2 separate regions of the Homo sapiens genome follow, and region 2 is linked to region 1. Evidence: fine-mapped expression QTL. A gene starts in region 1. The other region holds a variant in brackets. All regions are shown on one strand. Distances are between the middles of the regions. Region 1 holds the start of ACAT1 (acetyl-CoA acetyltransferase 1). Region 2 overlaps ACAT1 (acetyl-CoA acetyltransferase 1).

Evidence for each region. PIP is the estimated chance that this variant, and not a neighbour inherited with it, causes the effect. A credible set is the group of variants that fine-mapping cannot tell apart.
Region 2: its variant is the best candidate, but not a certain one, in a credible set for the expression of ACAT1 in whole blood (TOPMed, PIP 0.64).

Annotation. Positions count from the first base shown.
Region 1 is chr11:108,114,011-108,126,001 of GRCh38, forward strand. It overlaps ACAT1 (acetyl-CoA acetyltransferase 1), which reads left to right and starts at 7,557. Exons shown (of 12, transcript NM_000019.4): 1 at 7,557-7,668. The coding sequence starts at 7,597. It overlaps LOC124902748 (a long non-coding RNA gene), which reads right to left and starts at 372. Exons shown (of 2, transcript XR_007062878.1): 1 at 1-372. RefSeq lists silencers at 7,219-7,757, 7,359-7,768 and enhancers at 9,994-10,113, 10,174-10,233.
Region 2 is chr11:108,140,346-108,152,336 of GRCh38, forward strand. ACAT1 (acetyl-CoA acetyltransferase 1) reads left to right here. Exons shown (of 12, transcript NM_000019.4): 8 at 1,260-1,355; 9 at 2,092-2,205; 10 at 3,638-3,702; 11 at 5,857-6,014; 12 at 6,925-7,258. The coding sequence ends at 7,045. Among named protein-coding and RNA genes, the nearest start is that of ACAT1, 25 kb to the left of the region's middle. RefSeq lists a silencer at 10,424-10,592. The variant G/T (reference allele first, on the strand shown) is at 4,942.

The sequences.
Region 1 (11,991 bases):
TGTCTTTTGCATCTTTCTGTTTATATCGTAATCATTTTCTTATTCTGATACAGAGCGTACAAACATTTCTGTGTGCCCACTGAAGAAGCTCTGTTGACACTTTGTACCTGTCTCAGGATTTCAGTGAAGGAAGTGTCTTAGCTATGTGCATCCCTCCAGGATGAGTATTAGTTTTCTAGAGTTGCTGTAACAAAGTACCACAGATTGAGTGGCCTAAAACAACAGATTGATTGTTTCACAATTCTAGAGGCTGGAAGTCCGAAATCGAGGTGTTGCCGGGACCATACTGCGCTGTCTCTCTCTCTCTCTCAAGATTCCAGGGAAGGGCCCTTTCTTGCCCTTTTCTGGCTTCTGGGGGTTGCTAGCATCTGTGGCATTCCGTAACTCATTGCTGCAGTGCGCCAGTTCCTACCTCCACTTTCCTGAGGCCATCTTTTTGTCCATCTTCTTATAAGTACACCACCAGTCATATTGGATTTATGGCCAGTGTACACCAGTGTGACGTCATCTTAACTAATCACACCTTCAAAGACCCTGTTTCCAAACAAGGTTCCATTCTGACGTTTTGGTGGATGTGAATCTGGGGGGAACACTTCAACCCAGTACAGTCAATCCTCTAGCCCCATAAAATTCACATTCATCCCACATGCAAAATACACTCGCCTTATCCCAACATCCTCAAAAATCCTGTTTCAGCATTAACTATAAATCCAAAATCTCTAAGTATAGTCAACTCAAAACATTGCGAATCTCATTATCTAAATCATGCAAACCAGGTATCACTGAGACTCTAGGTATGATATGATACATTCTAGGGCAAAATTCCTCTCCTAACTGTGGACATGTGAAACTAGGAAACAAGTTATCTGCTTCCAAAATACAACAGTGGGTGCAATGGTTTGAATGTGTCCCCTCCAAAATTCATGTTGAAACTTGTTGTGGTATTAGGAGGTGGGCCCCTTAGGAAATGAGGCCACGAGGGCTCTGCCCTCATGGATGGATTGGTGCCTTACAAAAGGGCTGGAAGGAACCGCTTAGGTGCCCTTTTGCCCATCTGCTCTTCTGCTACATGAGGATGTAGCAAGAAGGCCCTCACCAGACATGTAATGCTGGCACCTTGATCATGGACTTCCAAGCCTCCAGAACTGTGAGTAGTAAATTTCTATTACTTATAAATTACCCAGTAATAATCAGATGTCTGTTACAGCAGCACAAAGGGACTGCGATGAGGCAAGCACAGGACAGACATTTCCATTATGAAAGAATTTGCAAGGAATTAAAGGGGTCACTGTCTCACACAGGTTTTAACACAAAAGGGAAAACTACATTCATTTTCAAGGCCTTAATGACCCTTTGACTCGATCCAGCCTCTGGGCCCAGGGGGTGCAGTTGGCCTGGGCCTCTGGACCTATAGCTTCGTCCTCTCTGGCCTCTGTATCCATGGCTCTGCCCTGGGAGTCAGTCATTTTCCCTTCAATTTGTTCTGTCTCTGTCCCTTTCTATCCAGGCTGGGAGTATTTCTGCTGGTATAAAATTCTCAAAAATCTTGTCAGTTTTCTGTTGATGTCACGGGGATGCACACCATTAGAACTCTCAAGTTCTCCACGGATCTTTCCTGGATAACCCCAACTCTATTCCTGGCTTCGCTGACACGGTTGAGTGGATCCATGAGTCACACAACTCTCTTTAGCAAATTATTGTCCAGACACACTCTTCAGGCCAGAACTTCTCCTCCTTGGCAGTATAGTTAGGCTGAGAATTTTCCAAATCATCAAGTCCTGGTTCCTTTTTGCTTAACAATTCTGAGGCAGGAGAATAGGGAATTCAGGCCATCAAGGGTTAAGGCAGAAACAAAAGAACAGCAGGTGCAGCCAGGTCTAGGCAAAACTGGGCAGCACACAGGCCACATCCTTGCTCCTGTGATAATGAGACAGAAGTTTCCACATCAGCCTCTGATTGTGTGCCAAGCCTCCACGTCAGCCTCTGGTCACAGGCCAATCCTTCATGGGCTGTGGCCAATTGGAGTCCTCTAAAGGGCACTGAGGGGAGTTGCTTGGTTCCTTTAGCTTAATAAAAACCCCAGTTGAAGAGGCTCTTGAACCACTTGCTCAAGCCTGCTCCCACCCTGTGAATTGTACTTCGGCTTCTTCAATAAATCTGTGCCTTCATTAGCCCGTTCTTTTGTTGCTTTGTTAGTGCGTTTTGTTCAATTTTTTGTTCAATACACCAAGAACTTGGACAACTCACAGTTAAGACATTCCATCCAGTAACAATTCCTACCTCAATTTACCTCCTTCCACTTGCATTTTAATGTAAGCAGGCTGTTTTCCAACTCCTGGCTTCAAGTCATCCTCCTGCCTTGGCCTCCCAAAGTGCTGGGATTACAGGTATGAGCCACCATGCCTGGCCCCGGCTAATTTTTAAATTTTTTTCATAGAGATGGGGGTCTCACTGTGTTGCCCAAGCTGGTATCAAACCCTTGGCCTCAAGTCATCCTCCTGCCTTGGCCTCCTAAAGTGCTGGGATTACAGGCCTGAGCCACCACACCTGGCCCCTAAGAGATATATTAGAGTCTTAACTCGAAGTACCTATGAATGTGACTATTTGGAAATAGAGAACTTGCAGGTGTAATCAAATTAAGATGAGGTCATAATTGGATTTGGATGGGCCCTAAATCCAATGACCAGTGTCCTTATAGCAAGAGTGGAGAAAAAGCCACACACAGGGGAGAAGACAGGGGTTGGACTGATGCCTCTACAAAGCCAGGAATACCAAGGATTTCCAACAACCACCACGATCTTGGAGAGAGGCATGGAACAGACTCTCCGTTAGAACCCACAGAAAGAACCAATCCTGCCAACACCTGGATCTTGGACTCCAGCCTCCAGAACTGTAAGAAAATACATTTCTTTTGTTTTAAGCCACCCAGTTGGTGGTAATTTGCTGCTGCAATCTTAGGAAACAAATACAGATTTTGGTACTGAAAAGTGGGGTGCTGCCATATTAATATACACAAACATGGAAGTGCCTTTATTAATAGATTGGGGTGATGGGCAGAGGAAGAAGTTTGAGGCACATGATAGACTAAGCCTAGATTGCCTTGAAGAGAAAGTGGGTGGAAATGTGAGTGCCCCATCTCTACAAAAAATAAAAATTAGGTGGGCATGGTGACACACGTGTAGTCTTAGCTACTTGGAAGGCTGAGGCAGGAGGATTACTTGAGCTTAGGAGGCTGCAGTGAGTTATGATCGCACCACTGCACTCCAGCCTGGGTGACAGAGCAAGGCTCTGTCTCTCTCTTTTTTTTTTTTTTTGGAGACAGAGTTTTGCTCTGTCGCCCAGGCTGGAGTACAGTGGCACGATCTCGACTCACTGCAACCTCCACCTCCTGGGTTCAAGCGATTCTCTTGCCTCAGCCTCCTGAGTAGCTGGGCTTACAGAAGCCCATCACCACACCCAGCTAATTTTTTGTATTTTTACTAGAGACAGGGTTTCACCATGTTAGCCGGGCTGGTCTGGAACTCCTGACCTCAGGTGATCTGCCCTCCTTGGCCTCCCAAAGTGCTAGAATTACAGGCATGAGCCACCACACCTGGCCAGAGACCCTGTCCCTTAAACAAACATATCTTTTGGAAGGACACTGTTTAACGTAGTACAACGAGTTATTCCAGTAGTCTAAGTTTGACAGAAGTTGTTCGTTGTAGAAGAACTTACTTGGAAATGAATATCAAACATCTTTGTATTATAAATATAATACCCACAAGTTTTTCTTAAATGTTTTTAATTTTCCACTAGTTTCCTGCTGTGAAAATATTGCTCTAATATTCCTAAAACTAACTTCTACTTCTAGAAAGCCACTCTGGGTCTCATGGACATTTCAGAGGGCTTTATTTTATCAATATTTTAATAATACTTTGCAAGACCTAAGTCTCCACTTACAAGTTTGCCACTAGATGGAGGTATTGACTAGATCTCCTTGACAAATGTAATAAATCCCAGATAAACCACTTTTTGAGTAGCTCTTCATTAATACATCTGTCCAGACACTATTGCCTGCTATGACAGGAATGATAATCCAAAGCCACAAATTCAGATATGCAAAAAATGTTTTTAAATTTTTTCTTTGGCCAGGTGTGGTGGCTCACACCTGTAATCCCAGCACTTTGGGAGACTGAGGGAGGATTGCTTGGGCCCAGGAGTTGGAGACCAGCCTGGGCAACATAGTGAGAACCTGTGTCTACCAAAATACTAGTACTAATAATAATAAATTTTAAAATACAAACAAAAATAATTCTCTCTTAATTGTATTTAATTTTCATTCCAACACTCCATTTCTATTTCACAGAAGAAATGTTAATCTAGTCACTTTCTTTTTTTTTTTTGAGACGGAGTCTCGCTCTGTCACCCAGGCTGTAGTGCAGTGACACGATCTTGGCTCACTGCAAGCTCCGCTTCCTGGGTTCACGCCACTGTCCTACCTCAGCCTCCCAGGTAGCTGGGACTACAGGTGGCCCCCTCCATGCCCAGCTAATTTTTTGTATTTTTAGTAGAGACAGGGTTTCACCGTGTTAGGATGGTCTCGATCTCCTGACCTTGTGATCCGCCTGCCTTGGCCTCCTAAAGTGCTGGGATTACAGGCGTGAGCCACCGCGCCCGGCCAAGTCCTAGATTCTTAAATGAAATTATTAGCTACATTTTTGCCTGGTGCTCATATTGGTGATAAAGCTACTCTTATTTTTTTGAAGTTTAGTTTTAAAGAGCAGCTTGCCTGCTGTAGCTCCAGAAATAAATGTACTATTCTTCTCCCCTCAATGCTCCTAAATGTCTCTGAACTTCTCTAGAAGCTGTCCTGATGAACATAGTGGCACTTTTTCCTGGTAGTGCCTCTGATGGCAGAATTGTCCAATTACAGCTGACTTCTATGTTCCTAGTTAGGTTTCTCCTAGGGCAGGTGTCTCCTAAGACACAACTAGTGTAGTGAGTGCCTAGAAGCCTAGACCTAGCAACCAGACTGCCTAGATTCCAATTGCAACTGTGTCACTAACTACTAGCTTTGTGCCCTTGGACAAACTTCTGGAAAATGTGGATAATGCTACTCCCTAATTCAGTGGATTTTTGGGAGAATTAAAATTAAACTGTAAAAGAACTGGTTCATATTAAGAACTATGTACATAGCTATGTAACCAGTCTTTTTTTTTTTCTTCTTTTTTTGAGACACAGTCTCATTCTGTTGCCCAGGCTGGAGTGCAGTGGTGTGATCTCAGTTCACTGCAACCTCCACCTCCCAGGTTTAAGCAATTCTCCTGCCTCAGCCTCCTGAGTAGCTGGGATCACAGGTGCCCACTACCATGCCCAGCTAATTTTTGTATTTTTAGTAGAGATGGGGTTTTGCTATGTTGGCCAGGCTGCTTTTAACTCCTGACTTCAAATGATCCACTCACCTGGGCCTCCCAAAGTGCTGTGATTACAGGCGTGAGCGACCACGCCCAGCCTAACCAGTCATCTTTTACTGTGTGATACCCTAGTCATCAGCTTTGGCCTCTCACAACTGGTAATCTCTATGAGGCCAGACCTTTAGTTTTCTGAGTCATTTCTTTAACAATTCAACTTTTTCAGTTAGAAATATCTGTTTCTCTCTCTCTCTCTCTCTCTCACACACACACACACACAAAGTTTAAACACTGACATACAATGTAATGACTTCCTTTCAATAATTCTCGAAGCAGCCCAGTATGAAAAATATTTGTCTTTGGCCTCTGGTAGAAGGGAAAGGTGTGAGTGTGACATTCCAAGGAAGGAGGTAGGCCTTGGTGAGCTGTTGAATAGAGAGGTTCTTCGGTGCAGGAATCACAGGGGACTTTAAGGGACAAACCTGGAGTGATGGGGAAATTAAAGACAGGGTGCTATATTAAAAAATTACCCTGGCCGCGTGCAGTGGCTCACGCCTGTAATCCCAGTACTTTGGGAGGCCTAGTGGGGGCGGATTGCGTGAGCTCAGGAGTTTGAGACCAGCCTCTGGGCAACATGGTGAAAACCCGTCTCTACTAAAATACAAAAGATTAGCCAGGCTTGGCAGCGTGCGCCTGTAATCCCAGCTACTCGTGAGGCTGAGGCGAACTCAGGAGGCAGAGGTTGCAGTGAGTCAAGATCGCGCCTGGGTGACAAGTGCGAGACTGTCTCAAAAAAAAAAATTACCCCCAAACAGACCTATTTAGGTGGCTTATGCCTATAATATCTGTGCTTTGGGAGGCCAAGGCCAGAAGATCTCTTAAGGCCAGGAGTTTGAGACCAGCCTGGGCAACATAGCAAGACCCCTTCTCTATATAAAATAAAAATTAAAAAAATTAGCATGGTGGAGCATGCCTGTAGTCCTAGCTACGTAGCTACTTGGGAAGCAGAGACAGGAGGATCCCCTAGCTACTTGGGAGGCAGAGACAGGAGGATCCCCTGAGACCAGGAGTTTGAGGCTGCAGTGAGATATGATTGCACCACTGTACTCCAGACTGGGTGACAAGAGCGAGACCCTATCTTAAAAAAAAAAAATACTCCAAAACATAATGGCCTAAAATAACAACCATTTGTTTTCTCTCGTTTCTGTGGACCATGAATTCAGACAGCATGGTGGGTATGGCTTGTCTCTGCTCCATGATGTCTGGGGTCTCAGCTGGAGTGGTTGAAGGTTGGGGACTGGAATCACCTGAGGCCTTTTTACCCATATTTGTATCTGGACTGAGCCTGGAATTTGATTGCTTCAAAATATTTTCACGGCTGGGTGTGATGGCTCACGCCTGTAATCCCAGCACTTTGAGAGGCTGAGTCTGGCCGTCTGCTTGAGCCCAGGAGTCAGCAACCAGCCTAGGCAACATAGGGAGACCTAGTCTCTACAAAAAAAAAAAAATACAACAATTTGCTGGGCGTGGTCGCCTGCGCCTGTAATCCCAGCACTTTGGGAGGCCGAGGAGGGAGGCTCACTTGAGTCCAGGAGTTCAAGACCAGTCTGGCCAACATGGTGAAACCCCGTCTCCACAAAAAATACAAAAATTATCTGGTTGTGGAGGCTTTCGCCTGTAGTCTCAGCTACTGGGATGGCTGGGGAGGGAGGATCGCTTGAGCCCTGATGGTCGAGATTACAGTGAGCTGTGGTCACGTCACTGCACTCCAGCTTGGGTGACAGAGTGAGACCTTGTCTCAAAAAAAAAAAAAAAAATCCTAAAATATTTTCATGAGTTTGTGCTGGGTAGGCCTAAGGGAAACATGCTCAGTAAATCGAAAAATCTCGGATTACACATAAACCACCGGCCCCGGCAGGTTAGACTTGGTGGACACGGGAGCCAGCAGCGTGTCAGGTGCTCGTTGACCCCAGCGCCAGTGTCTCCATCCACGTCCTTCACTCGTCAACCTTTCCTGGCCCAGGCTGCGGTGTCCCAGCGCCAGGCTCCGCCCCGCCCTTGGCTGCCGGCCAATCGCCGCCGACTGAGAGGCGACTATTGGAGGAAGCGGGATGGGCGGTGCCCGCGCCGGGCCGCTAGGGGTGCGGGGTTGGGGAGGAGGCCGCTAGTCTACGCCTGTGGAGCCGATACTCAGCCCTCTGCGACCATGGCTGTGCTGGCGGCACTTCTGCGCAGCGGCGCCCGCAGCCGCAGCCCCCTGCTCCGGAGGCTGGTGCAGGTGAGCGGGGTTCGTCCCCACAGCACTCAGACCCGGGATGCGAGGAGTCCCCGCCTCGGAAGCTTCCAGCCCGCGGCCGTTGCGGCTCCCGCGGCCCGGGCGCGCGGCTTAGGCCCCAGGACAGTCACGCGACGGGTTCTGGTCCAAAAACCGCCTAAGTGCTCCGATAACACCCAGGGACTCGCCTATTTTTACAGCGCGTTTCTACTTCCAAGGTCTCGGCGTAATCATCTTAATGAGCGTTACTGGTGTGTCAAACAAGGGCACGTGTCTGGGCGGGCAGGACCGCCAGGATTGGCGCTGGCCCGGCCTGAGCGGTGGGATCGGGGAGAGTCTCTTTGCAGGCCTGTGCAGCTGCTCCCGAGATTTTCTTTAAAACATATTTGTGTGCGTTATTGTCAGGAGAGGTTCCTTTTCTTTTTTAATACAATAGATAATCATTGGGCATACAAGGGGAGAGGGCACCATGTGATCATAACAGATGTTTTTTGGAGCAGCCTGAAATTTATCAGGGAAAACAAATGACTACTCAGATAATACAATAAATTATACTTGACATATGAGCAAAGCTCACATACTGAGGGCGTTCCAAGGGCTGTCGCTCTTCTGACCGTTGTGTTTAGGGAACACAGCAGGGGCAGAGTCTCAAAGAATTTATTCTCCACATGCGTAAGCAAGGGAGTACGCACCACAGATTGTCAGGCAAAGCCTCAGGAATAGGTAGAGACCTTCAGGGTGTGGTTGGTGAAGCTTGAGTTTTCTAGGTCGATGGGGGCAATAAGCTTGGAGATCCAGTTATGTTGTGAGTATGGACTTGACCCTAGTTAAGTAGGGATTGTTGATATGTTTGTTTTTGTTGCAATGGTAGGTCACTCTAGTTCTTACGTCTGGGCGTAGAATAACATTACTTGCACAAGGGTGCTGGCGGTAGGAGCTTTGCAAGAGATTGTAAAAGAACCAGTCTAGGACTTGACAATTAGGGAGTGAGGGTGCGAAGCCAAGGGAAAAGAAAGAGTCTAAAATTGATCCTGGGTGACTGAGATAATAGAAAAGTCACAAGGCGTAGGTTTCCAGGGAAGATGAGTTTTTAGCCTATTTGTTAGTCTCATGGGATGAGTGAAGAAATCACAAGAAAGTAATTAGGTTATCTTGGGTTTCAGTCAGTATTGACTAGGTGACATAGGTGAACTAGGTACTCTAGAGATGTAAAAAAAAAAAGTTCAGAACCTTCTTAATTTATGGTTTAATTAAGATCTTACAATCAGGTTGGTTGAGGTGGCTTATGCCAGTAATCCCAGCACTTTGGGAGGCCGGGGTGGGTAGATCATTTGAGGTCAAGAGTTCAAGACCAGCCTGGCCAACGTGGTGAAGCCCCACCTCTATTAAAAATACACACACACACAAAAATTAGCTGGGTGTGGTGGCAGGCGCCTGTAATCCCAGCTACTTGGGAGGCTGAGGCAGGAGAATCGCTTGAACCCGGGAGGAGGGGAAGGTTGCAGTGAGCTGAGATCATGCCACTGCACTCCAGCCTGGGCAACAGAGTGAGACTCCGTCTTAAAAAAAAAGATCTTAAAATGAAACACAAATACTCCTCATGAAAAAAATAAGCCTGTACATGCTGTAATGTATGATATGTGACATTCATATTACTGAACTCTAGGAAGCAGTTGTATTGGACACTTGAATTAAATGGTCATTTACTGAACTATAAACAGGATTTCCAGTTTTCTGTGCTATTTTGTAGAATGGAATTTGACCTCTCATTACATTGGCTCTTTTCCCTTTGCTTACCAGGTCTCTTTTATGGTCAACAAATCTTTATGGACTTTATTGGAGCACATTGCCTTTCTAGCTCTAATCACTTTTCTCTCTCTGGTCAAAGGAGTGGTCTTTACTCATTACCTCCCATGTATTCTGCATCTATTTCTCCTTAACTCTCTGCAGTTAAATTTCTTTGCCACTGAAGCTGAAAAATACAGTGATTTCCTTTTTCTTTGTTTTTTAATTATTTTTTTAAATCTATTTTAATTTTAGTTTTTGTAGACACGGGGTCTGGTTCTGTTGGCCAGGCTGGTCTTGAACTCCTGGCCTGCCAAAGTGCTGGGATTACAGGTGTGAGCCATTGTGCTCAGCCCAAGTTTTTTCTTCTTGACCTTTATCCTATATTTGACACTATTGACCACTCCCTTCTTGAAACTGTTTTGTGTTTTGATCCAGTTTTATTCAGCTTCTTTTAATACTCAGACTTAAAAAAAAATTCCTGTATTGTGCCAGTCTTGGGCTTATTTGCTCCCAGATTCATTTATCTTCCCTCCCCTAGTCTGTCTGCATTACTGTAGGCTGACCAATATCAGCTGGCTTCTGGCTGGGTGTAGCCACTGGAAGGCACCAGTGGAAGATTGGAAGATAGGAGGAAGGGAGAAGCCAGAATAATTTGTCTGTCTGTCTGTATCTGGCAGTGTCTGTCTCTCTTGTGGTTCCCGCTTCTGCTGGGATCCTGACCCCTTGGCTTTGGTAACCTTGCTTCTTCCCTTTGACCTAACAGCCTGTATGCTACTTCCTTCCTGTTGCTAATTTCTTTCTTTCTTTTTTATTTTTTGAGATCAAGTTTCGCTCTTGTTGCCCAGGCTGGAGTGCAGTGGCACGATCTTGGCTTACTGCAACCTTGGCCTCCCGGGTTCAAGCAGTTCTCCTGCCTCAGCCTCCTGAGTAGCTGGGATTACAGGCATGTGCCACCACACCCGCTACTTTTTGTATTTTTAGTAGGGACGGGCTTTCACCATGTTGGTCAGGATGGGCTCGAACTCCTGACCAGCTCACCAGGTGATCCACCTCTGATGATCTGCCCACCACAGCCTCCTAAAGTGATTACAGGTGTGAGCCACCACACCTGGCCCCCTTCCCTTTTTCTAATCTTACCCTAGTACACTCAGTTCCCCCGCAGCCAGAGTGGTCTTTTTATAACATAAAAGCTTTCAGTGGCTTGTCATTGCCCATAGGCCAGAATCTAGACCCTTATGATCTGCTGGGCCCTACTTAGTTCTGTGGCCTCAGCTGCTGCCGTGCTCACTCTGCTTTTGCCACAGGACCCTTCTTTCTATACTTAGTATGTGTGCCAATTTTGTTCCGAATTCGTGGCCTTAGTCCTACGTGTTCCTGATGCCTCAAATGTTCTTTTCCTGGATCTTTCCAAGGATGACTCTTTAACATTCATTTCTCAGCTCCATTAACATTGCTAGAAGGCCTTTTTTGACTCTCCCATGTAAAGTAGGCCGTCAGTTACTCTCTAGTTCATGATCAATTTTGCTGGTTTCATAACATTTACTGTAGCTGAAATTTTGTTTCTCTGAGTTATTGGTAACTTTCAGACTGTCTTCAAATATTTGTTTTGTGTCTGCTGCCATCACTGGGATAGAAAATAAATAAAATCAGTCTCTTCTTGGAATTCACAGTCTAGTGAGGAGAAAAGCCACCTGAGGGTTACAAAATTATATATTCTGGAACAATTAGAATGTGCACGGGCGTTGTGGAAGCTGAGATAGGAGTGCTGACCTCTGCCTGGCATGGCTGAGCCCTCCCTGAAAGATAATTGTGTTATGTAGATAAAACTTAATGGGTTGTGTTCATTCAGCATGTATTATTATACACTATATGGTTCAGTGTCCTGACCATACTATAATTTTGTCATTCGTTTCTGATATTGAAGGAGCGCTAGGCACTGTGCTAAGTCATAGGGATGTAACAGTGAGCAAGAGACACCATCCCGCCATCAGGAAGCCTGTATTATGTTGGAGGGGTGGATAATAAAACAAAGATGTGAACCACATACTTACAGTGTAAGAGGTGCTTTGAAGGAAATAAAGATATTCATATAAAAGAGAGGAAAAAGTAGAGGGTAACTTTAAATAGAGTAGTTAGGGTGGACCACTCTGGGAATGTGTCATTAGAAAAGACATGAAGAATAGGCTGGGTGTGGTGGCTCACGCCTGTAATCCCAGCACTTTGGGAGGCTGAGGCGGGCAGATCACCAGGTCAGGAGATCGAGACTATCCTGGCTAACAAGGTGAAACCCTGTCTCTATAAAAATGCAGAAAATTAGCCAGGCGTGGTGGCGGGCGCTTGTAGTCCCAGCTACCTGGAAGGCTGAGGCAGGAGAATGGCGTGAACCTGGGAGGCGGAGCTTGCAGTGAGCCGAGATCGCGCCACTGCACTCCAGTCTGGGTGACAAAGTGAGACTCCGTCTAAAAAAAAAAAAAAAGAAAAGACATGAAGAATAAAAATGAGCCAGCCATGGAGAGCTGGGAAGACTTTTTGTTTTGT
Region 2 (11,991 bases), 26 kb after region 1:
CAGTTCAGAGAGAATATAAATCTACCCAACTTAATGTCAGATTTCAATCCATTTATAAGATCCCTGAGTATTACTTTAAATTTGAGAAATTTATTAGAACTTTTTCCTGTGACAGTCAATACGGTATTTTAAATTGAAAAGGGATTTACTAGAAGGTTACCGGGAGTGCCTCCAAGAACTGAAGGATGAACAGTAGCAACCATTCAGCTCTGGGAACTTCAGGGATTGGAACTGGGTGTTCACTACTACTAAGACATGCTCTCTTGGCTTCTCACACCTGCAGGCTTTTGTGCTTTATTCTCTCAGCCTTTCTAAAGTTGCTGCCTCTACCTCTAGGGTCACATATATAGGGTTCTCAAAAAGGAGAGACTTTCTCACCAGTTCCAGCAGAATAAATCCACAATGAAGACTCATTAACTTGCTTTAGGTTACAATTCTATTCCAGGAATGATTACTGTGCTCTAGGTGACAGAATACTAGAGCTTATCTAGTGTAGGTCAGACAGCTGCCTCTGGGGTCAGGAGAGTGGGGTCTGTGATCATAGAAGGGAGTTGAGGAAGAAAAGGGGACATGGAGGTGTAGAAGATTTAAATTTTGTGGCTGGGTGCAGTGGCTCACACCTGTAATCCCAACACTTTGGGAGGCCGAGGTGGGAGGATTGCTTGAGCCCAGGAGTTTGAGACCAGCCTGGGCAACGAAGTGAGACTTGGCCTCCACACAAAAAAATTAAAAATTAGCTGGGTATAGCAGCACACGCCTGTAGTCCCAGCTACTAGGGAATCCAAGGCAGGAGGATCAATTGAGCCCAGGAGTCCGAGGCTGCAGTGAGCTAGGTTTGTAGCATTGCACTCTATTGGGAGACTGTGCAAGACCATTTCAAACAAACAAAATTAGCTGGCTGTGGTGGCTCCCACCTGTAGTCCCAGCTACTTGGGAGGCTGAGGTGGGAGGATCACATGGGCCTGGAGAGGATGAGGTAAACTGTGATCATGCCAGCCTAAGCAGGAGAGGGAAACCCTGCCTCAAAAAAAAAAAAAAAAAAAAAAAAAATTGTGAAGCTACTTTGTAAGTTTCTCTTTTTAAGATGGTAACATAATAGAGGTTATAGTTAACAGATTCTAGATGAGTGTTTACTTGGGATGGTTTAAGTGAAGCAGGGATACAAAGGGAGGCACAGACTACTAGGCATCTTGTACAACAGTTGCTTGCTGAATGACTACTTGTTTTGAGCGATTTTACTTAAAATATTTTTATTTTAGGTCAACCAGATGTAGTGGTGAAAGAAGATGAAGAATATAAACGTGTTGATTTTAGCAAAGTTCCAAAGCTGAAGACAGTTTTCCAGAAAGAAAATGGTTAGTGTTAAGAAATGAAGCATAAGAAAAAATTGAGCCAGTATACCATATCTAGTTCTTAGAATTGCCTAAGGATTTTGAAAAATTCTAGAAAACATCTAGATGTTATTTAACATTTTCAGTATATCAGGCTCATGTAAAATTGTTTTGGTAGTTTATACCTTCAATATATAAATCCCAGGGAAGATATGTATAACATGACTATAGAATTCAGTTTTTCATATGTAGCAGTCTATGATAGGGTCTTCATTGGCATTGAAAAAAACAGATTTATTGATATAATTTATATACCATAATAACATTCTTCTATTTAAAGTGGTTTGGTAGTTTTTAACATTCATTTATATTTATCTCCAGGTGATTCTAGATAAGAATAAATATCTGATTTGAAAAATATGTAGTGAGTACCTGCTATATATTGAATAAGGAAAGTTAGACCCTGGAGACAAAAATATTAACTGGTCCCTATGTTTCAAGAGTTGTAGACGAGCATTTATCCAGTGCCATCATGCATGTTTGTGATGTTTGAGAAAACTGTTTTATGTACACAAAAAGGCATTCTTACATTGTCTTGCAGTTAGCTGTGTACATGTTTCCTGAGGGCAGGAATTGTCTCCACCCATATTTGTAATTTCTTTAAACATTTAGCAGCCCAGGCAATAGGTATTTGTTGAATTGAACCAAATACATTTATTGTGAAGGAATGTTTTGACTTCAACCTCATTTTTGCTTTCAGGCACAGTAACAGCTGCCAATGCCAGTACACTGAATGATGGAGCAGCTGCTCTGGTTCTCATGACGGCAGATGCAGCGAAGAGGCTCAATGTTACACCACTGGCAAGAATAGTAGGTAAGGCCAGGCGAGGTGGCTCACACCTGTAATCCCAGCACTTTCGGAGGTTGAGGTGGGAGGATTGCTTGAGCCCCGGAGTTCGAAATCAGCCTGGGCAATATAGTGAGACTTCGTCTCTACAAAAAGTTAAAAAATTAGCTGAGCATGGTGGCATGTGCCTGTACTACCATCTACTCGGGAAGCTGAGGTGGGAGGATGCCTTGAGCCCAGGAGTTTGAGGTTGCAGTGAACTGAGATTGTACCACTGCACTCCAGCCTGGGTGACAGAGCGAGACCCTGTCTTAAAAAAAAATAAGGTTTCTAAACATCTATAAGCTCTTCATGAAATTGAGTTTACTTGTTAGATATAGCCAACTCCAATATTAAGTATTACTACCTAGGTTGTACTTGTGGCAGAATTTAATTGATACATATTTCAATTGAGATAGAAGCTCCTTTAATATTTTCATTATACTTTATATAAGATTAAGCTTTAAGGGCTGGGCACAGTGGTTCACGCCTGTAACCCCAGCATTTTGGGAGGATAAGGCAGGATTGCTTGAGGCCTGGAGTTTGAGACCAGCCTGGGCAACACAGTGAGACCCCACCTCTGAAAGAAAAAAATTAGCCAGGTGTGGTAGCATGCCTGTAGTCCCAGTTACGTAGGAGGCTAAGGCTGACGATCATTTGAGCCCAAGATGTCAAAGCTGCAGCCAGCCTAGGCAACAGAGCAAGATCTTGTCTCTTTTTCTTTTTTTTTAAATTAAGCTTTAAAAAACTTCCTGTCCTGTATGATAAATAGCAGAAAATAAAGTACATGCATTTTCCTACAGAGGCAGCTATGTAGGAAAAAAAGAATATGGGATTAGGAGTCCAGAAATACAAAATTTACATGTGTGGTGTTTTAGTATTTATTAACTCTGTGGCCTTGGGCAAGTTCTCAATGTCCTTAAGCCGATTTTTAGCTGCAGAAATCTGTCTTGCCTTCTTCCTAAGGACTTAACAGATGCTATTTTGTTACTTTATAAAAAGCCTTATAACTTCATTTTTTTTCTTAGCTTAGATCATGGTTTCTTAACCTCAGCACTATTGACTTTTGCACTAAGTAATTCTTTGTTGTAGGGACTGTTCTATGCATTGTAGATGTTTAGCAGAATCCTTAGTCTTTACCCAGTGGCATCTGAACTATTCTGACAACCAAAAACATCTCTAGGTGGTGCCAATGTTCCTAGAGGCAAATACCCCCAAACTCCCCCCCAATGAAAATCAGTGTCTTAGATTACTGGAGTAATTTTATAAAGTGTAGAATCCTAGAAAAGGAAGACATATATTTACATATATTAAAGGGGCTAGGAAATGTGCATTTAATGGGCTAAACTTGGCTTGTGCATATTCTATACAGTAAAAAAAAAAAGATTTTAACAACCCCCCCCCCCCTTTTTTTAAACAGCATTTGCTGACGCTGCTGTAGAACCTATTGATTTTCCAATTGCTCCTGTATATGCTGCATCTATGGTGAGAACAAAGTGAGGGGCGATACTCCATTATGCTAGCTTCTGGTTTGCTTATACCAAGGTTGCAGTTTTTAAGATTTTAAATGTTATCTGCCAAAGCAGAGAGATAGCTTGGTTTCAAATCTTCCCATGTCTTCTCCTGAAAAGAGTAAGAGCAACAAGGATAACAAACAAAAAAAAAAAAATAAAGAACAGCTCACAAACTACATCTTCAGTAGAACAGGTAAAACTACACATCTGAATTACTTGTAAGTATCATACAGAACTCACACACCTGGTGTGGTAACCACAAAGCGGAGGGAATGCTGGCTGATGGTTCCAGATCTAGAATGGAAAGCAACTAGTCACTCCCCAGGAGAGGACTCCATTCTGAAAGGGAACAGCTGGCAGCAGGTCTTCAGAGTAAATAGTAAAACTAGAGACAGAAAACCTACATATTCCAAATTGTCAGTAAGGGCTATCCAAGTCTCAGTGGGAAATTGCTAAGCAGTCACAGGAAAAGAAAGTTTTAGGGGTTCAGGGTTCTTAGAAATCTTAAGTAAATATTTCCTTTTGAGAGGGCCTCACCCTGACAGTAAACTTCTGTAAGCACCCAGATAAAAAAAATTGCAGAATTTTAGTAAAATCAGATTCTCCCCACTGCCCCCAACCCCCGCAATGAAAAAAAAAACTGCAGAATCAGTAGGAAACAAGAATAGAGAAGATCAGAAACAAGGGGCCAGTGGAGTGATGATCTGCTCAGAGCTAGCAGATCTCAGAAAATGAAAGGAACACGCAGCTTCTGAAAGTGAGTAACATCACGTTGGAAAGCAAGGGTAATAAACAATTCTGGATTCTGAAGGTAGAATAACTTCTGAGAGCTACAGACATAGCTATATATGGGTACCATATTTTGTTTTGTGTTGTTGGAACAGTGGAAGCTGTTTGAGCTGTATAGGCTAGAAAGCTACCCTTAGTCCACTAGTAGAAGAGAGGAAGATGGAGGAAGAGTTCCACGTTAATTTTATTATCGCTCACAACAATCAAATTTCTTCTGTAAAGAAAAAGGGCACTCACTAGTAATGTTTTAGGGCACTCACTAGTAATGTTTTAAAAAGTATTAGCATAGGGATAATCACTGGCACAAATACACCTTCCTGCATAGCTGAGGAACTACCAAAACAAAACAGATCATATAGTGTAAGATTTTAAATAAATGACTTACAATGAAACTGCAACAGATGTAAATATCTGTGGCCCA[G/T]ATAACCCTACAGTAACATTTATAAAGCAGAAACTGCAGGGGATGCATTAATATCACTAATATTAGAAACTAATATACCTCTTTCATTAACAGTCAAGAACATAGAAATGGCTGGGTGCAGTGGCGCTCGCCTGTAATCCCAGCGCTTTGGGAGGCAGATCGCTTGAGCCTGGGAGGTCAAGGCTGCAGTGGGCCATGACTGTGCCATTCCACTTCAGCCTGGGTGACAGAGCAAGACCCTGTCTCAAAATAAATCAACAACAACAAAAAAGAATATAGAACCAAGCAACACACAATCAGTAAAGCAGAGCTTAAGAATATATAAAGCATTATGTGCCCCTAAATAGAAAATGTACCTTTTCAAATATCTGTGGAAAGAAAATCAAATTTTCTGTCCCCTATGTCAAAACAGACATAATGCAAACAAAATTCTTTGATATAATGGAATAAGATGAGCAACTAAAAATCTGAAAATGGGCCGGGTGCGGTGGCTCACGCCTGTAATCCCAGCACTTTGGGAGGCTGAAGTGAGCAGATCACCTGAGGTCAGGAGTTTGAGACCAGCCTGGCCAAACATGGTGAAACCCTGTCTCTACTAAAAATACAAAAAATTAGCTGGGCATGGTGGTGGGCATCTGTAATCCCAGCTACTCAGGAGGCTGAGACAGGAGAACTGCTTGAACCTGGGAGGCAGAGGTTATAGTGAGCCAAGATGGCGCCATTGCACTCCAGCCTGGGAGACAGAGCAAGACTGTTGGAAAAAAAAAAAATCTGAAAATAGAGATCCTTCCATCTGAAACCAAGAACTTCCATATTTAAATAACTTATGTCAAACTGTAGTATTTCAAGGAAATGATGACAGTAAGTTGTGATTGCTAATTATTTGAACATCATCTGTCTTTTAAAAAATTTAAGGTTCTTAAAGATGTGGGATTGAAAAAAGAAGATATTGCAATGTGGGAAGTAAATGAAGCCTTTAGTCTGGTTGTACTAGCAAACATTAAAATGTTGGAGATTGATCCCCAAAAAGTGAATATCAATGGAGGAGCTGTTTCTCTGGGACATCCAATTGGGTAGGTAAAAATAATAACTATATCTAGGTTAAGAGCTGCCTTTGTGTTTCTAGCTAAACTTAAAACTGCTTCATAATTCCCATTGCTCTTAAGTTTTCCTTCCTACCCATCTTTCATAAGGCAAAAACCATTTCTGATAGATGGTATCCAATACTGAACAGAGACCTGTCACATCTGTTATTTGAAACCTAATAATGTTTTATGCTGAAGAAGAAAAAGTGTACATTTAGACTTTTTACCCCCTTTTTCTCCTTCCTATTTATTTCATTAGCTTTAGGGTACCGTGGGTTTTGGTTACATGGATGAATTTATAGTGGTGGGGGCTGATTTCAGTGCACCTGTCAGTCACCCAATATGTAGTTTATCCCACATCCCTCTTCCATTATACTCTACTCTTCTATCCATTATACTGTTCTGTACTTTTAAAAGATCTGTGACCTGGCCAGGCACGGTGGCTCACGCCTGTAATCCTAGCACTTTGGGAGGCTGAGGTGAACAGATCACGAGGTCAAGAGATAGAGGCCATCCTGGCCAACATGGCGAAACCCTGTCTCTACTAAAAATACGAAAATTAGCTGGGTGTGGTGGTGCACGCCTGTAGTCCCAGCTACTTGGGAGGCTGAGGCAGGAGAATCGCTTGAACCCAGGAGGTGGATGTTGCAGTGAGCTGAGATTCTGCCATTGCACTCCAGCCTGGCGACAGAGCGAGACTCCATCTCAAAAAATGATCTAAGATCTGTGACCCTTCCTGAAACAAGTCCTCCAAGTTTTAGTTTTAGAATAGTAGTAGTTAATTCAGCAAGTAGTAGTGGCTAGTAAGGTTTTCAAGAAGTTAAATTGGAATAGAAACATTTTGGTTAGTCATAAATTCTGTACTTCATTAAAGAAGTAAATGCTTTCTTAATTTTAGGATGTCTGGAGCCAGGATTGTTGGTCATTTGACTCATGCCTTGAAGCAAGGAGAATACGGTCTTGCCAGTATTTGCAATGGAGGAGGAGGTGCTTCTGCCATGCTAATTCAGAAGCTGTAGACAACCTCTGCTATTTAAGGAGACAACCCTATGTGACCAGAAGGCCTGCTGTAATCAGTGTGACTACTGTGGGTCAGCTTATATTCAGATAAGCTGTTTCATTTTTTATTATTTTCTATGTTAACTTTTAAAAATCAAAATGATGAAATCCCAAAACATTTTGAAATTAAAAATAAATTTCTTCTTCTGCTTTTTTCTTGGTAACCTTGAAAAGTTTGATACATTTTTGCATTCTGAGTCTATACTTATCGAAATATGGTAGAAATACCAATGTGTAATATTAGTGACTTACATAAGTAGCTAGAAGTTTCCATTTGTGAGAACACATTTATATTTTTGAGGATTGTTAAAGGTCAAGTGAATGCTCTTTATAGGTAATTTACATTTAGTAAATTACGGTAAATTAAATTACTTCTCTTTACAGTAAGAGTTGGCTATTCTGGACAAACTAGCAGTGCTTCATATAATCACTCAAACCACAGTGTGTGCAGCAGTACTAGAAACAAGACAGAAGCCCATGTCCTCAGGGTCTAGAGTGGGGGCAATTTCTTATAACCTCAACATTCAGGGTTGGGGGAGGTCAAGCAGAAAACCCTGGAGTTTGGGCTCTGAATTACTATAGCAGCATAGAGAGTGGGAAGGGAGGTAGAAACTGATATGCTGAATGGATATATAAAAAAGGGAACAGATCACCACTTCCAATACACGACAATGCCTGTTCTTAAGCAGGACAGACTGTAACAGAAGTATCTCGCATTGCATTTTATCTGGGAAAAAATTAATTAATTAAAACGCTACAGGCAGGGGCTATGCACACTACCCTCAATTGCAGCTCTGAAGAGGGAAAACTCCCCCTCAGGAAGAGGAGGGGGCAGTAAAGGTCATTGTGTACACATTATCTGTTGGCAAATAATGTATTGTAGATCTTTTGAAGGAGCAAAATGACAATATATGGGAGAAATAGATTAGATTGCTCTTCAGATTCAGAGGAAGAGTAGAGTATTTTCAAAAACATCTGTAATCATCACCAACTTTTGAGGCTTGTTATGTGCTTTATATGTATAAACTCATTTAATTGTCACAAAAACTTCTAAGAGTGGGTACCATTATTATCCCTCCTTTATAAACAAGGAAATTGAGGCATAGAGTAGCTAAATAAATTCCAAGGGCAAAAAGCTGGCTAGGATTCAACTCCAAGTTAGTCAAGCTCCAGAGCCCACGTTCTTAACTTACTATGCTTTAGTTAAATGCCTTTCAATAATTATCTGCCCCGACTTACAAAAACTTCTAACTGAACCAGGAGCTGGATAAGATATAGGAGAAAAGGAAACCCAAAACATGAGAATACTTCATTGAAGATAAGCAGAAACTAACATTGCATCCAAAGGTCATTGATCTGGAAAACATCTGAGAAGTGCTCTGACAATTCTGGGAAAAAATGGAAAAGAGAGAAGAAACAGAGAATCAAGTAAGTAGGTTTTTTAATTTGTTTTAAAGAGATAAGGTATTGCTCTGTCGCCTGGGCTGGAGTGCAGTGGCATGACCATAGCTCACTGTAACCTTGAACTCCTGGGTTCTCAAGTGATCTGCCTCCCTCAGCCTCCTGAGTAGTTAGGACTATAGGCACATGCTACCATGCACAGCTTAAATGGTGTTTCCTAAAAAAAAAAAAAAAGATACTCTGAAGCAATAATTTAATATAACAGAAAACATAAAGATAATAGAAAAACTCAGATTTTTAAGTCCTAAGGGGGAAGATTTTAAAGAGCATTTTTTTTTTTTCTTTTTTGAGACAGAGTTTTGCTTCGTAGCTCAGGCTGGAATGCAGTGGCACGATCTTGGCTCACTGCAACCTCCGCTCCCTGGGTTCAAGCGATTCTCGTGCCTCAGCCTCCTGAGTATACAGGCATGCGCCACCAAACCTAGCTATTTTATTTTCAGTAGAGAGAAGAGTTTTGCCATGTAGGCCTGGCTGGTCTCGAACTCCTGACTTCAGGTGATCCTTCTGCCTCGGCCTCCCGAAGTGCTGGGATTATAGGCATGAGCCACCACGCCCAGCCCTAAAGAGCATATTTTATTGGCAAAATTAATTAGCAGAAAATCATACTAAGACATTCTGGAGAAAATGTATTAAATTCCTCTAACATCTAGTTAGAAAAATAGGTAGCCACAGTTCTTATTTCTATTACATTCAATCCAAGAAAACAAGTGACAGGACATCTAACTGTTTTTAATGAAACAAAATAAGATACTAAAAGGTGTGTCTCAAACACAGAAAAGTTTAGAAAATAAAGTACTCTGATGTTTCCTCCAAAAATGACAAAGGTTTAGGCAAGCCCATGGAATGAAGAATTAAGAATTCAGTTAGGTGAAAGTTTCTAATTTTTTAAATGACTGCTTAAGGACTGGCTGGGGAAGAAGGAAAGGTAGTGGTTGAAGGAAATAAAAATGTTTTACCTCAAATTATATTTATTTGACATATTTTGAGATGGCTATCAGAGGGCCAGCAAACAGAAGTGGTGCTGCAAAGCTGTCTTTTTTGAAAGAAATCTGCGTCTATGGAGAATCTCCATTAATGCAGCCAGGACTTCCCTTGTCTGGAATCTAGAAAAGGTTAAATGAGAGCCTGTCTGACACCTTTAAAGGTCTTAAACATTTAACATCCATTCTCTCAGAAAGCTTCTAACAAGACCACCTTTCCTAGCCAGGTCTCCTTTCCCTACCCGTAACCTGTGTTGCCACTAAAACCTGATTTACCAAAATAACATGTTTTTGGCCATGCTGGGAGCTCACATTACTTCTGTAACCTGAAGATGGTATAAAGTTCCTACACCTGGCCGGACACAGGGGCTCATGTCTGTAATCCTGGCACTTTTGAGAGGCCCAGATGGGCAGCTCACCTGAGGTAAGAAGTTCGACAGCAGTCTGGCCAACATGGTGAAACCCTGTCTCTACTATAAATACAAAAATTAGCCGGTCGTGGTGGCGCATGCCTGTAGTCCCTGCAACTCAGGAGGCTGAGGTGGAAGAATCGCTTCAACCCAGGAGGCAGAGGTTGCAGTGAGCCAAGATCACACCATTGGACTCTAGCCTGGGCAACAGAGTGAGACTGTCTCAAAAAAAAAAAAAAAAAAAAGTTTCTACACCCCACTGGGGGCGGGGTCAGGTCTTTGTCTGAAGGCCCCCATGTATACAACATTAAATAAATGTATATTCCTTTTCTCCAATTAATCTGCCTTTTGCAAACAGCTTTATTTTCCAGCAAACCTTCAGAGGGCCAAGGGGAACTTCAAGGTTACAGTGAAATGATCCTGCCACTGTACTGGGGGACAGAGGGAGACCTTGTCTCTTAAACAAAGAAAAGAAATACCATTTACTTTCTGGTTCTCTATTTTTTCTCTTCCTTTCCATTTTTTCCCCAGAATTTTCAGAGCACTTTTCAAATGTTTTCCAGATCACCAACCTTTGGATGCACTACTTACCTTCAGTGAAGTATTCTAAAATATGTTGAGTTTCCTTTTTTCCTTGTATTTTCCTTTTTTTTCTTGTGTTTTACACCTACCTCCTGGTTTCCCTTGGCCTTTACATGGTGAAATATCGGTAACATGTTATCTTTATCTGCTAAATAAAGGTAAACGCTAGTAGGACAAGTTCTGAGACTGCCCTCACGGGACTTACAAGAATTGCATGCTGGGTCCTGGACAGAAATATAGTTATAACTAGGCACTAAACAGGCTGCACCTTGGCCCACTTCCTAAACCCTCGGGGAGAGATTTGAAGTTTCCTCCAGTCTCCTCATTCGGTGGCCCTGCAATTAAACATCTTTCTTTGCTGCAGCCCAGGGTCTTACATACTGACTTGTCATGCACAATGGGCAATGGACCTGTTATGGTTACAGTTCCATATCTTAAGTTACTATAAGACAACAGCTTTAAAATCCAATAATAAAGTAAAAAGAGGCTGGGCGAGGTGGCTCACGCCTGTAATCCCAGCATTTTTGGAGGCCGAGGCAGGTGGATCATCTGAGGTCAGGAGTTCGAAGACCAGCTTGGCCAACATGGAGAAAACCCGTCTCTACTAAAAGTACAAAATTAGCCGGGCGTGGTCGTGCATACCCGTAATCCCAGCTACGTGGGAGGCTGAGGCAGGAGAATCGTTTGGGCCAGGGAGGTGGAGGTTGTGGTGAGCTGAGATCATGCCACTGCACTCTAGCCTGGGCAACAAGAGCGAAACTCTGTCTCAAAAAAAAAAAAAAAAAAAAAAAAAAAAAAAAAAAGTAAAAAGGGTTGCATGTATCATAAATTATGAGAAGGCAGAAACTGTTAAAATGGGGAAAGAACTACTTTTTATGATGGTCTACTTTGTACTTTTTTTTTTGGCAGAAAAAAAGCCAAAGCTATGACCAAGATAATAATGTTTCATGGATTAAACAAACACTTGTGAAAAAAGTATTAAAGCAAAGACAGGATTCAAACAGTATAAGACTGAATACATATCAAACTTTACCTTTCTAAACAATACCTATTTCTTTTTTAACTTTTTTTTTGAGATAGGGTCTTGCTCTGTTGCCCAGGTTGTAGTGCAGTGGCATGGTCTCATCTCACTGCAGCCTTGACTTCCTGGGCTCAAGTGATACACCCACCTCAGCCTCCCTGGTAGCTAGGACCACAGGTGCATACTACCATGCCTGGCTAATTTTTGGTAGAGATGGGGGTTTCATCATGTTGCCCAGGTTGGTCTCGAACTCCTGGGCTCAAGTGATCTGCCTGCCTTGGCCTCCCAAAGTGCTGGGATTACAGGTGTGAGCCACCATGCCCAGCCAACATTACCTATTTCTAAGCCCCCGTGCAACATTTATAAAACCTGCAACTTATCCTGACCACAATAATAAAAATTTTAGGCAAAAAAGAGCCTGGTATCATTTATTGTAAATAGTTATGTATGAA